Regions from separate parts of the Homo sapiens genome. Here region 1 is linked to region 2. Evidence: fine-mapped expression QTL. Tissue or cell type: pancreas. Region 2 holds a variant in brackets; the other region holds the start of a gene. All regions are shown on one strand. Distances are from middle to middle.

Region 1 (7,905 bases), 75 kb before region 2:
TCTGGCACAGTAGGTATGAGAACAAAATGTGGTTGAATAATGTTATGATGAAATATTTACATAATACGCTGTTACTGTGTTACAAAGATCTGTCATTTGTATTATTTCATCCTCCTAACAACCCTGTGAAGTATGAATGGATCAATTTCCCCATTCTGAGGATATAACAACTAAGGTTCAAAGAAGTTACATAACAAGTCAAAGAACACATATCTAGTAAATGATGGAGCCACATATATAAAATACAGGCCTCTGACCTATAAAGTACTCAGGAGCCTGTGCTGCCTAGGTTCAAATTTAAGCTCCGAAGCTTAACAGCTGCTTAAACTTAGCCAAGTTAACCTCTCTACTTCCTCACATGTAAAATGCAAAAGGAAGTTAATAATAATACCTATCTTATAGGGTTCTTATAAAGATTAAAGGTGTTATTGTCAAGTAAACATCATGTGTCTGACACACAGCTGTCAGCAAATATTAGCTATCATTGCTCTGTGCTGCAGCTATAGTGCATTTATGCCTAGAATACTCTATACTACTTGATCAAAAATTATAAACTATGCAAAAGGAAAAAACAGCAACAAAAATTAATAATGACATAGATGAAATGGTTTTTCTGTAAACATAATCTAAGGTTAGTACTCAAGGCTACAAGACAAAAGCAGAGGGGAGACATAATCAAGATCTACAAAATTATGATAGTAAACATAACACAGTAATATTGGTAGCATGAGAGGGGAAACCTCAGAAACTAGAATACTGTAGAACAGACATACAGCACTCAATGTACAAAACAGAAACGGATCACAAAATTTTGAGACAATTTGTGAATAACAAAAGAGACAAAAGTGGCTACTAAAAGGCACTCATCAACTCTTGCAAACGTTTTATCTAACCCTAGGACTTGTTGGTAGCCATTTCTGTTAAAGGGAATGAGGTTGTTGGGAAAAGAAATACCACACCAGATTGCAGCAAAAGTTAGAAATCCATTAAGTGCCATTAATTCCAACTTGGCACAAAAGCAGAGGCTTCAAAGAAAAAACATACCCTTTGCCAATCAGCACCAGGTACCACTCCTCTTCCCCAATCTCATTCATCATCATCACCCTTTAAAAAACCCTTTAAGCCTTAATGTCCTATTTTAATGCCTTTTAATCGTTTTGCTAAAGAATAATTAAAATGTCTCTAAATTTGGCAGTCTAAACAAATCTCAAAATATACTAACCCAATAGTTTCTTAAGCTAAAGTTTCTTAAAATGTTCACACTCTTAAACTCTCCACATCCATTTTCCTCACTAGGAGTTAAAAAACTTGACAGAAGTTTATTACTACTACTTTCAATACCAGGCCAACCGATTTGTTCCCTAACAGGGAAATTCATTAGCTCTTCACTAGAGCTAATGATTGAAGGTGAGAAAACATACTGAGGGTTAGCTTAATCAAAAGATAGCCAGAAATTCCCAAAAGAAATAGAAGCAGAGTTAACTTAAATTTACAAATGATTGTAAGAATCACATTCTATTGCTTGATTTCGTTTACACCATCCAATTAAAAAATTAAAAAAAGCCAGAGATACTGGTGTGTTTTTAAACTTGAATGAAAGTGTTCACCTTTTCCTTATTAGCCATTTCAGAAACTTTTGATGATGAATAACATGGTTTAAAGATGGGCAAGACCAAGAAGAAAGAGGAAAGAAAATACACAGTCTACAAATATAACTAGGCAGCCCCAGAAAGAGATGGAAATGAATACAAGCTTCAGTATCTACAAATTTAAATTTAAAATGAGGTGAGTGGATTTATCTCTTACAGGCACTTCTCCGTACCCAACACAGTAAGTAGAAAGGGGAGGATTTTATTAAAAACAGGAGACGGGTATTAAAAGGATTCAGAATGAAAGGTAATAAGTCAATTGTTTTTGTTCTCAAAAACTTCTATCATTCTTCCAATAAAAATCCCTCAGCCAGGCGAGTGTTTTCTCTTCCCCTTGTTTATGTATTATTTTATGTGAGCAACAACTCTACAATTTCAGTGCTTCTGGAATCCATAAGGCATCCATAAAAATGAAAATAGTGTTGGTGCTTTGCAGAAATAAGCAAAACAGGAAACTTAATTTCTATTTTAATATAACAAACAGCAAATCGCCTAGACTGAAGAAGCATCTTTTCAGTCATCAATTGTCACACATCTTTGAAGAAATTCCCTGGGAGGAAAGAATGGCTTTTCCAAGTACGGTGACAGCAGTCCCTCGACTTACAAGCTTTCTCTGCTCCTCAAAAAACTCCAGAAGTGCCTGGGATTAACAGAAACTCCGTAAAACTTAAGGAGTGCTTTAGGGACAAAGCACTCTTCCCGCCTTGAAAATACAGCATTTACCTTCCCGTCACTAAGGGGCATTACCAAAAACTACTACACACACTACATCTAAGACACCCTCTCCACCAAACCAATTGAAAAAGTGCTTCATAACACACATACACACACGCCCCCCAAGTTTCCAAAAACAGCGGCCCGAGTGTACTTGGGATCAAACGCTGTGCGAGAAATGTCCAGGAGAACTACTGCTTATACATTACTCTTACCTTCATGACCACTCACGTTTTAAAATCGCACGTCCGGAACGCATCACATCCGACGTGCTTTATCCCCTTACCACACTAAGAACGCAAAGACTGGCGGCAAATCGGAGCAACTTACTTACCATCAATCTGAACACCCACCCCAAACCCTGCACCGTCTCCAAGGGGTAGAGGAACTGAGTACAAAGGCACTTGGTGGTTCCCTCTACCTTGGCACCTCTCTCTCTCCCACTGAGTCTCTGTAAATTCCAAAATACACCATGAAAATCTCCGCACAGAGCACTACCAGACCAGTCAGATGGAGAGTCGAGAAGTAATCGGTTTGTCCCTTCCACGGGGGCCTTGGAAACCCGGACCCTAAAAGCCAAAATGACCAGGGGGTGTGACCTGGGCTGCTCCCTCCCATTTACTCCCCTCACGGGAACTCCCTTGTCGTCGCGGCTACTCACCAGACCAGAGAGCACAGAAAGAGGCAGGAGACCAGGGCCAAGGCCCGCCGGTGCTTCTTCATCTTCTCCTCCTTCTTCCCCCTGCCAGAAGGCGGCACATCCTCCCGGCAGCCGCCACTGCCGAGGCCAAGATGGAGGAGCCGGAGCAGGAGCGCGAGAATGTGACCGATAGTCCTAAGGGCTATGGCGCTGGCTGAGCGGCTCCTCAGTGGCTCGCGTCCTGGCAGCCCTCTCTGAGGGCCCCACAGAGGCGCGGACAGGGGCGCTTCACAGGACTCCGGGGACCGCCGCCGCTGCAGCCACCGGCTCGTCCACGCCCGCCTCCTGCAGCCGCCACTGCCGCCCCATATCCTCCCCGCCCGCCGGGGGCCTTGCTCCGTGAGGCCAGCGACCAACGGCCGCCGCGTACTCGCCTCTCAACAGCCAATCGCCGGCGGGGCCGCGACACCTCACACACCGCTGAGCTGGAAAGGGACGCGTCACCCAAGTCCCGCGGCGCCCGCACCCCCACCAGCCTCTGCGCAGGCCACGCCCCCTTCGACGTCGCAGGCGGAGAAGCCGGAGGCAGGAGACCACAAAGCGCAGGAGCAGATGCTCTCGCCGCTCCGCCCGCCCCAGGTCCCGCCCACTTGCTGGCTTGCGTTCAGAAAGCCGGGAGGAGCCCAGTGATCCTCAGCATTTCCCCTTACAGTGGACCGCCCTTCGTCCCTCGCGCGCTGAGTCCGCGCAAGGGCCTTTGGGAGTTGTAGTTTGCCTTCCAGAATTCGTTTTTCTCTTTCCCAGTCCCTCCTAGAATCCATGGTTTTGTTAGAGAAGTCTATAGTTTCGCTGCTCACCACGAGACTGATCAGCTTTGGAACTGTTGCACTGTTTTCCTCTTTTGAGCACAGTTCGTGGAATGGCCTAGAATGACGTGTGTGTTGTGAGGGAAGCTGCACCAAGCCCTTTCCCTGTGGCAATGGACTGCCCCATTGAGCTAGATGTTGATTGGTAGATAGAAAGGGGCGTGCCAAGAATCCTCTCATCTGATTGGTTGCAGCGGAAAACCTTTCGCTTTTTCTTCTCTTCAGCAAGAATTTCGCCGCTTGCCGGGTTCCTCACTTTAAGTGTGCTTCGTTGCTTTTCGTTCTGTTGGTTTCGAACTTTGGGTTCTCTGCGATGGAGTCGGAAGGGAGGAGTTGTCCCCATTAGAGGAGCACCCACAGACGCTCCAAGTCCTGGGGTTCACCTAAAGTGGGGAAGGCAGTCGCTTACACTCACCTAAGAAGAGCAAAAAGTGACCACTTCTCAATACTAAGTAACGGGGCAGCATGCCCATTCCAAGTGTTTACGCCGCTGAGGGGACGGAGGCTGCAATGGTCTGTGCCTTGGAACATGGCATAATGTTTAGTGTGAAAAATGTTTAAAGGACGGGTTACTTATTGTTCATGTGGCCGTAGGGAAAAAACCCTCAGTAAAATGCCCACCTAACGCCTAATTTTGAGCCGCGGAATTTCCTTATGAACCTTCTAAGTTGAATTGGATGTTAATTATAGTCCCAAAGAACTGAATGATTTGATCCGCTCTGTGATTCTTGGATATAAGTCAATTTGATGTTAGAGAAATTATACAAAGGGTGATAATTTTTGTTTTAAAGGAGTTCACCCTGAACTGCCTTTTCTGGCAGTAATTAGGTACAGTTCCACTTATCTGCTGATGCCACTCTTAGTATATGACAATAAAATCCTTTCATCTGTCACCTATTGCGGGAAGCAAGTATTTATCTCACCCAAAAACAGTATCAAATGATTAATATGCAAGTTTAAAAGAAAGTAGGGGCAATGAAAGGGTAGGGATAAATTGACATTCTTTACCATGTTGGACACTCTTTTCCTCTTACTCCAGGAACTTTTATTCAGGATAGGAAACAGCTGAGGTATCCCTCAGCTGATCCTCAGTGCATCACAGCCAAAGAAGTTATATTAGAATACGTGCTTATCTCAAATCTAGGAAGTTATCAAGTTACATCTCCTAACCCTCTCATCCCAAACTCACAAACCCATCCACTTATTTTCCACCAAGTCCCTGCAATGATTTTTTGAAACATGCAAGTACAAATAATTTTACTTTTTTCTTTCTCTTTCATTCCTTCCTTGACTGCCTGCCTGCCTTCCTCCCTTCCTTCCTTCCTTCTCCTGCAGTTGGAGCTTTATTAATACCCCCGTGGTAGGCTTTCCATTCACCTAATTATCATCCAATTATTAGCTTTTACTATTTCAATCTATAAATGTTCTTTTCTCTTTTTGCAGCTTCATTTCCATGGTTTCATGTTAAGGTTTAATCCTTCACTACTCCGAGCTTTTTCCATTTTTCTCTTGAGCAATTTTAATTTTCAACTATACTGTTGACTCCTAAACCTATATCCCATCCTCTTTTCAAGTAGTTGCTGGACATATTATTCTATCACTTCCAATTTTACCTGCACAAAATTGAACTCATTTTCCCCATAAATTAGCTTCTTCACGTGACTTTCTATATTTGTGTTGATTCTTTCCTATTCTAAGACTTCAGATGAAATAAATAGAAGTTCCATAGAGCTGACCTTTAAAGAACTGGTAGACATTTTTCCACATATCTGTTAAATATAATGAGAAAAAGAACAGAGAAAATTTTCTTACAACTCAATAGACAAGTATAAGAAAGTGAGTAATAGTTATATAAAATAAAACTAGTATAGATGAATGTCACCATACTTAAAAGTATAACATATGCCAAAAATGGCAAGAAAGAATATAGAAAAAGAGCATGTATAATGTATAATCTTTCATATATAATATTTAATTATATATATAATCTTTTAAGGCTTAGGCTAAGTAACCACTATCAACCACCCCTTAACTATAATACAGTAATTCTCAACCTGGGGCAGACTTCCCCCCAGGGTGAGATTGGCATTGTGTGAACACATTTTTTGCTTGTCACATTGGAGAAGTACTACTGGCATCTAGTGAGTAGAGGCCAGGGATGCTGTTTCACATCCTACGGTGCACAAGAAAGCCCTCCACAACAAAAATTATTTGGCCAAAAAGTCAAAAGTGCCAAGGTTGAGAAACCCTGCTGTAACAGAATCTCCCAATTCAATAAAATCTATAAAGCACTGACCACACACAGGATAACTCGTTTGCCCTGCAGATCCTTGGATTATTCAGCAAGTCACTAGGGCCTAAACTGCACAATGAACATGAGTTCTCCCATTCCTAAAAGGGTGACTAAACCAGAAACTCTGGGCAGCTCAAGTCCCTGCCTTGATAAAGATCAGATACTCTGTTTGCTTATGGTAAAAGAGAACAAGCAGACCTTAGAAAAGGAACCAACCCCTTCTGGCTATCTCGTTTGTTCTTTATCTCATATACAAATCATATTTAAGACACCCAAGAGAACTGTGTTGTCTAAGATGGTGGTATTTCATGAGCAAGCTTTTATGTATTTTGATTTAGTTGAAAAATTACCTGCTCCTTTCAATATTACAAAATGCTGAGATCCTATATGTCTCCAAAGGATCTTAGAGACCAATGACATTTAGATGCTTCCAGAGTAAAAGTCAGTTAAAACAGAAGTTTCCTGGAAATCAGTCAAAGAAAGGTTGGGGAATGGAAAACAGACAAATGGACAATAAAAGAGACTAAATAAGATGGAAAAATGGTGAATGTGGCAATCAGCACTTAACATTTTAACCGCATAAAAAGTATAAACAGAACTTTTAAAACTGTCCCCCCGATCATCTTCTTTATATATATAAATATGTGTGTAGAATAGCATATACCTTCTTTATTTAGTTACTACCTACCTGAAAAGAGCCTTAACTACTTAGCCTAATCTACCTTAACAGAGCACTGGTAATTTGGCCACTTCAGGAGGTAAAGGTAGAAATCAGAAGAAGACATAGATTGCTTTATTAGTACAGTCTGAGAACTCAGTCTCTTGAGGGCGGGAAGATCTGAGGGCGGGAAGATCACAGAGTGCAATGTTGGCATGCACGGTTCTGTTTTTACTGCAAATAACAAAAGGTAAGATTTCCCTTTTTAAAAATTCTACTTTGTGATCCCAAATTCAGTCTTCTATCACTGCGTTAACATATGTTTATTTTGAAGATACATGAATTGAATAGGCTCATAATGGAATCAACTAGAGGAAGGGAATGATTACATGTGGGTGACAGAGAAGGAGACATCAAAGATGGTCCAATTTCTAAGAACGTATGTGCCATTATATGAGTAGGAAAGTCAGGAGTTGCAGATTTACAATTTAAGAGACTAGTATGGTTTTGGAAGCACAGTATTGAGGTTCTGGTGGAAGTATCTAGCAAGAATTTACAAGTACAAGATTCAAAATAGGGAGAGAAAGTAGCAACTGAAGCAGCATGTTGGGGATTGTAACTGATGCGTCCTTTAGTACCTCCTGTATAACGCTCTCAGATGAAGCTTCCTAAAACATTATCTTCATCATGTCCTTTCTTTGATGCAAAAATCTCCTACAGGTCTGACGTATTTGTGAAATAAAGTCCTGCCTCCTTGGCCTGGCATTCAAAGCTTTCCATAATCAAACCCAGTTGATGTAGTTCAAGCTTTATTTCCCACTGTTTTCTTTCATAACTCAACCTTCTCACCAGACCACACTGTTTATTATGACCTGAAACACCTGTGCCTGCCCTCATGACACTGTTTTTATTTAATAGTCATTTGTCTCCCCAAGCAGTGAATAAATTCCTTATTGCAGAGAGGTCATGTGTTTTATTGATATATATCACACAGTGACTTTTTTTATTACAGAGGCCCAAGAAATAATTTTTTACTTTTTACTTATTTCTTTGTCTAATCACCTTAAATTACAATTTGCCTTATA
Region 2 (7,905 bases):
TGAGAATGTGCCAGAGACAGACTGCTTTATTCAAAAATTTATCTAAAGTTGACTCTGCTCCAAGGGAAGATGCAGGAAACTGTAACTCCTCCTGAATAGCATGATTGCTGTTCTAAATCCCCTAAATCCAGCTAGCGCTATTGTATGAATGAACTGTGCTACAGGGGCTGCATCAGAACAAAGCTGCCTGCCAAAGACAGGATTTTTGTTTTTGAGAAAAAGTGTACTGTGGGAGACTCCTATTCATTCTTGAAAACCCTGAATAGTCTTTTTCTTCAAGGAAGACTTCCTTGATATTTACTTTCACTGCCCCTTCACTCCCCATCAGATCTATTTCTGTTTATATTGATTACATTCTGTTGTCATTATTTATTTATTTGTTGACTCCTTAAAGACAGGTCTTATGTATTTCTTTTTTTTTCTTTGTAGTTTACCTAAGTACCTGGCCCATGGCAGACAATCAATCAATATTTGTTGAAATAAACTTAATTTATTTTGAAACTATTTTTTAATATATGTTAGAGAATATCTGTTTACAGTTGTCTAGCTTGATGGTCCTACTTTTAAGGGGCTTGAAGGTGTTAATTAGAGAGTAATGCAGATAACAGAAGGACTACAGAATAGGTGCATTAAGGGGAAGATGAGCTGTTTGGAGCAGAGACATGATGAAACACAGCCTAGATAAAACCAAGGCAAATATCACTGGTGATTCACAACCATAACTGTCAGCAGGTATTTCTTCTGCACTGAATGATTGAGCTTCTAGCCCAAGGTTACATAGGAATATGAGTAGTTACATAACCAGGTCCTATTTACATTTTTTTGAGATTCATCTATTTTGTGCTTTTATTTAGTGCTAATTTCTTTTTATCGGTGTTTATGATATCATGTATCATAAGTCACCATCTTAATGTGCAATTTAGTAGTTTTTAGTATATTCAGAAAGTTGTAAAACAACCACCATTGTTTATTCCTAGAACAGTTCATGACCCCAAAAAGAAACCACATACCTATTAGCAATTGCTTCTCACTCACTCCTCTCCCCAATCTTTGACAACCACTGTCTATTTTCTGTCTCTGAATTTTCCTATTTTGGACATTTCATATAAATGGAACCAGTATAATATGTGATCTTTTGCATCTGGTTTCTTTTACTTAGCAAAATGTTTTCAAGGTTCATCCATGTTATAGCATGTTTTAGTATTTCATTCTTTTTTATGATTAATATTCTATTATATAGATAGACAACGTTTTGTTTATCCATTAATCAAGCCCTAGGCATTTGGGTTATTTCCACTTTTCAGCTATTAAGATATGGCTGCTATGTGCATTCTTGTAGAATTTTGTGTGTGAATATGTTTTTAGTTCTCTTGGGTACATATCTAGGAATGGAATTGCTGGGTCATATGGTAACTCTGTGTCTAAGGTTTTGAGGAATTCCCAAACTGTTTTCCAAAGCAACTGTACTGTTTTACATTCCCATCAGCAATTTTTGAGGCTTCTAATTTCTCCACATCCTGGCCAACACTTGTTATTATCCACCGTTTTATTATTATTATTATTACAACCATCCTAGTGGATGGAAAGTGTGTCTCATTGTGGTTTTGATTTGCATTTGCTTTACAACAAATAATGTTGAGTATCTTTTCATGTGTTTATTGGTCATTTGTAGATCTTCTTTAGAGAATGTCTATTGAAACTTTTTGCTCACTTTTCAACTAGAGTGTTTGCCTTTTTATTGTTGAGTTTTAAGTGTTCCTTATATATTCCAGATACTAGTCCCTTATCTGACATAATCCTTCATCTGTTGATTTGCAAATATTTGGGTTGTCTTTTCGTGTTCTTGATGGTGTTCTTTGTGGAACAAAAGTTTAAAATTTTTATGAAGACTGATTTATCTATATCCTTTTGTTGTTTGTGCTTTGGGTGTCCTATCTTAGAAACCATTGCCTTATCCAAGGTCATGAAGCTTTATACCTATGTTTTCTTCTAAGAGTTTTATGGTTTTAGGTCTTACATTTAGCTCTTTGACCTATTTTGAGTTATTTTTGTACATGGTGTGAGGAAGAGGTACAAATTCATTCTTTTGCATGTATCTATGCAGCTGCCCCCGTACCACTTATTGAAAATACTATTCTTTCCTCATTGAACTGTCTTGGTGCCTTTGTCAAAAATCAATTGTTTATAAACATAAGAATTTACTTCTGAACTTTCAATTTTATTCCATTTATCTATTTGTCTATCTTTATGGCAGTACCACACAGTCCTGACCATAGCTTTGTAGTTAGTTTTAAAATCAAGAAGTATGAGACCTCCAACTTCGTTCTTCTTTTTAAAGATTGTTTGGCTATCCTGGATCTCTTGCATTTTAATATAAATTTTAAGATATGATTGCAAATTTCTATAAAAATGGCATCTGGGATTTTGAGGATTACATTAAATATGTAGATCAGTTTGGCGGAGTATATTCATCTTTACAATATTAAGTGTTCCAATCTATAAACATGGGGTTCTTTCCATTTATTTAGGCCTTTTAAATTTTCTTTCCACAATGTTTTATACTTTTCATTGTATAGCTCTTGTGCTTCTCGTGTTAAATTTATTCCTAAATAATTTTTGATGCTATTACAAATGGCATTGTTTTCTTCATTTTTGGGTTGTTCACTGCTATTAATAGAAATTAAGGTTTATATACTGATCTTGTATCCTCAACACTGCTGTACTCATTTATTAGCTCTAATAGTTTTCTGTGCATTCCTTAGGACTTTCGCTATATAAGAGCATATCATCTGCAAATAGACTAGTTGTACTTCTTTCTTTCTAATGTGGATGGATTTTATTTCTTTTTCTTATCTTTCTGGCTAGAATGTATAGTAAAATGTTGAGTAGAAGTGTCAGGAGCAGACATTGTTGCCCTGTTTCTAATCTTAGGGGAAAGTATCCAGTCTTTTACCATTAAGTAGGGTGTTAGCTGTTAGTTTTTCAAGCTGCTCTTTATTAGGTTGAGGAAGTTCCCTTCTATTCCTAGGAGTCTTTTTATATATTCCCCAGTATTTCTATTCAACTCACTGCTGAGAAAGAAGGGGTATCACAGTGACTACAGCAGACCTGCAGTCCCTCCCCTTGGGAGGACTTTGAGGTATTACTGCATAGAGTGAGGCAAGGATATTTCATGTTTATTTTCTAACTTTCTGTAGTTTATCACCAGGTTCTGACAGCAGTACAGAAGGGTCCCTGGGCACTTTTGTGTTTGAAGCCCTTCCTTTTAGAAGCTTCAATAAATGGTAAAATTGCAGCATGTGGCTCCACTTCTATCATTCCTGGACAAGGGCAAAGGTCAGAGAAGAGGTCTTGAGAAAGAGGA[T/C]GGCTGCTGATGTCCCAAGTGTGCCAGCTGGCCAAGGCCAGCTTAGGCCTGGGGTTGGTGCATTCTAAATGTGGACACAAGGGATTCCAGGAATAAGACCAGGAGAAATCCCAATCCTAGTTTCCCAGACTCCAGCCAATGCTAATATTTAACACAGTGACCCTAATTATGTAGAAAATGAACATAGATGGCAACATCAAGGTGCAGCTTTGCCGGTAGCTTCAGTTAAATTTGTAAATCCCACATAAAAATTTCACAAAAGTGCCACTCTCTTTCACATCCGACTGGACCTAAGACTTGCCATGAACTCAGTGAAGGAGCTTTTCTTATATCTTCTATTTTTCTTCCATTCTTTTAAAGCACGTTTAGCCTACACATTTAGCCCCACCTTCCTCCCCAAGTCAAAGGAGAATTATAGGATATCAGAGTTGAAGAAACCCTTCTCCAGCTCGTACCTCAAACCTAACCATGTTGCTAAATTAACCCTTAACCAAAGCCTCTTCCTTACCCTGACGCTAACAACCATCCCAGCGCTAACTCTAATTCTTAAATTACCGAAGGCCTAACTCCAGCCTAGTCTAGCATCCTTCCTGAATCAGGCCTCTGATTCAGCAACTGTGATAGATGGCATGGCAGAAGTTTGTCTTTGTTCCCTCCACATCTCCCTTGCTTTCCTTCTTTCTTTTCCTAATATTCCTCCCCTACCACCATTCTCCACTATATGTTACAAATACCCAAAGCAGGTGACACCGCCCCTGACTACCTAGAAAGTACTGTAGACTCTCTCCCCAGTCTTTCTCTTGAGGTGCTACCTAAATTAACAGTAAACCCAAAGATGAAGCTGTTTGTCTCCTGATTGTAACGGTGGAGAAATGAGTGTGAGCCTATGTGTTGTGTGGGGGCTACATTAAGGAGGGAGAAGGAGCTCCATAATCCCCTAAGCCTCTGAGAGGCTGTAGTTACTTAGGAGCCCAAGGCGAAGTGTCTCATTGCATCTCTACTCTGGCCCATCTATCCTGGTTACCCTTTAGCTTGTTGAAACGGAGAAGGTTTATCATGTTCTGTCAGTCGATGCTGCTCCCAGGACCAACAGTTCCTCCTTGGCAGCCTTTATCTAGGCCCTCCTTGCAACGGGCCCCGTCACTATCTCTCCCCACAGGGCTTGGCTGGGAAGGGCAGTGCTGCACCCTGAGATGCCTGTGCCCATTTCTGTCTTCCCCCTTGCCTACCATTTTCATTTCTTGACATGTGGAGCACAGCTGTTGGTTTCTGAGCAGCATGGAGTCACACTGGTTCCTCCTGGCCTGAGGGGAAAGAGAGACAGAGAGAGGTGAGGAAATGGTGGGGCATGTAGGGCAGCAAAGATGTAGGAAAGCAGTGGAGGGGTGAGAGAGGTAACAGTTTTTCCTTCCGTAAAACAGAGATGGGCACTCTGGTCTCAGCCCCATCCAGGGTGGGTGTTGAATCTGGAGTGTGCTGCAGCTGGTAGGTACCGAGAGTTTAGGCAGGAGGGAGTGAGACATAGGCTAGGTGGTGGTCTTGAGGCTGCTGCATGCAGTGGTATACATGTAAAGACAGCTGGCAGAGATGGCTGGGGCCTGAAATTCAGTGGGGTCTCTACTTTCCAGCCTGAGCACCTGTGTCTGAGGGGTTGCATTCTCCTATAGGTGGGCCATTTTTTCCATTTCATAAAAAGGCTCCACCATATAGACTGAGGATCTCTGATGGCCTAAGAAAGAATGAAGAGAAGACTTCTCTTCTGCAAATCTTTTTTTCACGGGCCTTTCCTAAGCATCGCCTTCCTTTCTCATGCCTTAACTCTGGGCCAGAAACAGCTCTCATGCATCCATGGTCCAGCACCATTTGGCCCTTCTGTACCTCCTAAGCAGAATGATTGAAGCCACAAGCAGAACTCAAGCTTGTGTGTGAGTCCTGAGTCCCCTCAATCCTCTGGGAAAGAGAGGCTGTCTCAGTAGGTGAAGAAGCAATCAGTGGAGGAAGGGGAGGGGCACCGTGTCTGCTCACTGTAACCACTGGTTTTTATTCTGACTTCATTTCTGCAAAAGCATTAAAGAGAGGACTTTGGAGCATTTACACCTGGGTTCAGGAGGTTCTCATTTGCATCTCTGATAAAAGTTTGCTTAGGAAGCATATAGGAACTTGAGGCTAAACTTATGTTTGGGATTCTCTCTTAACCTTCCTCATTCACATTGACATCAGTCATGAGATATGGTCACAGAAAGTGCAGAATATGGGGAAGAGGAAAGCCACAGTGAGAAGACTATTGACTGAAGTCTTCTCTTTCCTTTGATCCGCTTGCTGGCCCATCACTACATGGTGTGCCTTGACCCATTCCTGTTGCCCTGGGAAGTGTGGGGAACAGAAAGAGGAGGAACAGAAAGTGAGGAGTTCCTGAGGTGTGCTCCTAGGATGACCTTTGCCAGATTGTTCTGCAAGTAGCTTCATCCTGTGAGAGACATATGGCACTTAGGTGATGCATCATGGGGGGTTTGAGGGCTAAAAACTGTTAACAAAGTTGGATTCTTTTGAGAAACATTTAAAATACACTTCATTTTTATAGGGCATTCTAAAAAGAATCAACTCAGTATTACAATGTTGTGGGTTGGTATGTCAAAGTATGTGTGTGAATAACTAGATTCATTCATTCAACAGTAAACATCTATTGTGAGGCTACCAAGTAAAGGGTGCTGTGACGGGGGTCATACCGACGAATAAAGCAAAGTTTCTGGAAGGAAGTTTCTAAGGAAGACAAAAGAAGAATACAAATTCATTCATTTACCCATTCATTAGGTACTGGAGACATTTAAATAAATAAGACATAGTTTGTGACCTCAAGCTGCTCACCATCCAGTAGCCTATACATCAAGAAGTATGATGGTGTTGAAGGTGCTACAACAGAAATATATCGAGGCTCCAGTGAAGCTGAAAGGGGTCATTGAGCTTAACTGGGGGTGGGGCAGAGAGGGAAGGGTCTGAGAAGGGTAAAAAAAAACAGGCAATGCTTGGGTAGGTGTTTGTGGAGTGAACAAGGATGGTGAGGGTGTTGCAAGCCCAGGAAACACTATACAACAACCTGGAAGAATAATCTAGCAAATCAGCTTCGGGTAAGTGAATGTAGGTTGGGATGGACAGGTTGTCTGGTGGGAGGTTGAATGGAGTGAGAAGAGAGACTAGAGAGGAAATGTCTGTGGATATTGACTCCTCTGCTTTGGGCTGATTCAACTTTCTACCATGTCTTCCTGATACCCCTGGGGGTGATATCCCCTGAAGCTCCAGCTCCTCCCTCCATCCCTCACATCTTTGAGGTATGAGAGTGAGGTACATTTCTGAAACTGCAATTAAGGTAGGACACACTAGATATCATACAAGAGGCACTAATACCTCTGTGCCTTCAGAAAACAGAGAGACCACTTCTGATTGGAGAAATCAGGAAAGGCTTCCTAGAAGTGGAATTTGTACTCAGTCTGAAGGGATGAGGAAGACCTGGACAAGGGGAGGCAGATATGGAAGAATTCTTGGGCAGGTTTGTTTTTAGTAGAGATATAAGTTCTTCACTGAAATTATTTCCTTCACCTTTTTCCAGACTTCTGGTTTCTGCTAAGACTACTATTAGACCCTATAGGAAGTGGAATCTCAGAGCTCATTGCAAATCAAGCAACAGATATTATTTGCAAGATCCCCAAAGTGCATTGCAAGATCTTGCTAGGTTAATGACAACTGTAAATGTGAGTACAGAGTCCCATAACATAATGACTGTCATCTCTTAGAATCTGAGGGATGAAATGCTTATATATTGTCCCACCTGGCCTTGATAGCTACTCATTTAAGACATAGTGTAGGTGTTACATCCTCAGAAAACCTTTCTCCTGGGCTGCTACCATTTCTCACCCTCCTAACCTCAGTTGGGTGCCTGCCTCTTTGATTGCATCATAAACTTGGTCTAGCTTTCTTTGTATTTGCACTATTCTTGATTTTAAATGTGTTTATTTCCTCCACCGGGCTGAGAGTTATTATATTTAAGAGCAAGAATCATGTTTTACACATCTTTGTATTCCTAGAACCTATGATAGAACCTGGCACACAGCAAGTATTCAACAAACATTGGGCAAATGAATGAGTCATTGTAAGCAATTTAAATTATGAGGTCTAAATATAGACACAATCAACCTAAATATATAAAACGAAAAATACATATATAAATGAAGATCACTATTGTAACACGGTCTTCAGGGAAACGTTACAGAACATTAGTGTTGTAGTACAACAAATTCATTCTATGTAATGCACTGGGGAAGAACACTGGCTAGACGCCCAAAAAGCTCTGTTCCAGTCCTGGCTCACAAACAACTTGGGTGACTTTTGTCAATCATATAAACTCTCCAAGTCTCCCTTCCCCTACCGATAATGGTCTTTGTGTTCAAAAAGACAGAGGCGGATGCTCTAATCCTGTCCCTTTACACTTTACATTTAAAGGTAAAAAGCAATCTTTGATCTGTGCTGTACTCTACCTCAGACTTGCT

Alleles and levels. Alleles are on the strand shown, and positions count from the first base shown. SD is a standard deviation of normalised expression in the study named.
In carriers of allele T in region 2, the expression in pancreas of the gene that starts at base 3,372 in region 1 tends to be lower than with C alone (moderate effect, 0.60 SD a copy in GTEx).

The links. PIP is the estimated chance that this variant, and not a neighbour inherited with it, causes the effect.
Region 1: SUCO starts here. The variant in region 2 is fine-mapped to the expression of SUCO in pancreas (GTEx, PIP 0.98).

The regions. Positions count from the first base shown.
Region 1 is chr1:172,528,617-172,536,521 of GRCh38, reverse strand. It overlaps SUCO (SUN domain containing ossification factor), which reads right to left and starts at 3,372. Exons shown (of 24, transcript NM_014283.5): 1 at 3,025-3,372. The coding sequence starts at 3,086. RefSeq lists enhancers at 2,984-3,143, 3,754-4,003, 4,064-4,173 and a silencer at 3,264-3,433.
Region 2 is chr1:172,453,178-172,461,082 of GRCh38, reverse strand. C1orf105 (chromosome 1 open reading frame 105) reads right to left here. Exons shown (of 7, transcript NM_139240.4): 4 at 4,594-4,668. Among named protein-coding and RNA genes, the nearest start is that of PIGC, 13 kb to the right of the region's middle. The variant T/C (reference allele first, on the strand shown) is at 3,365.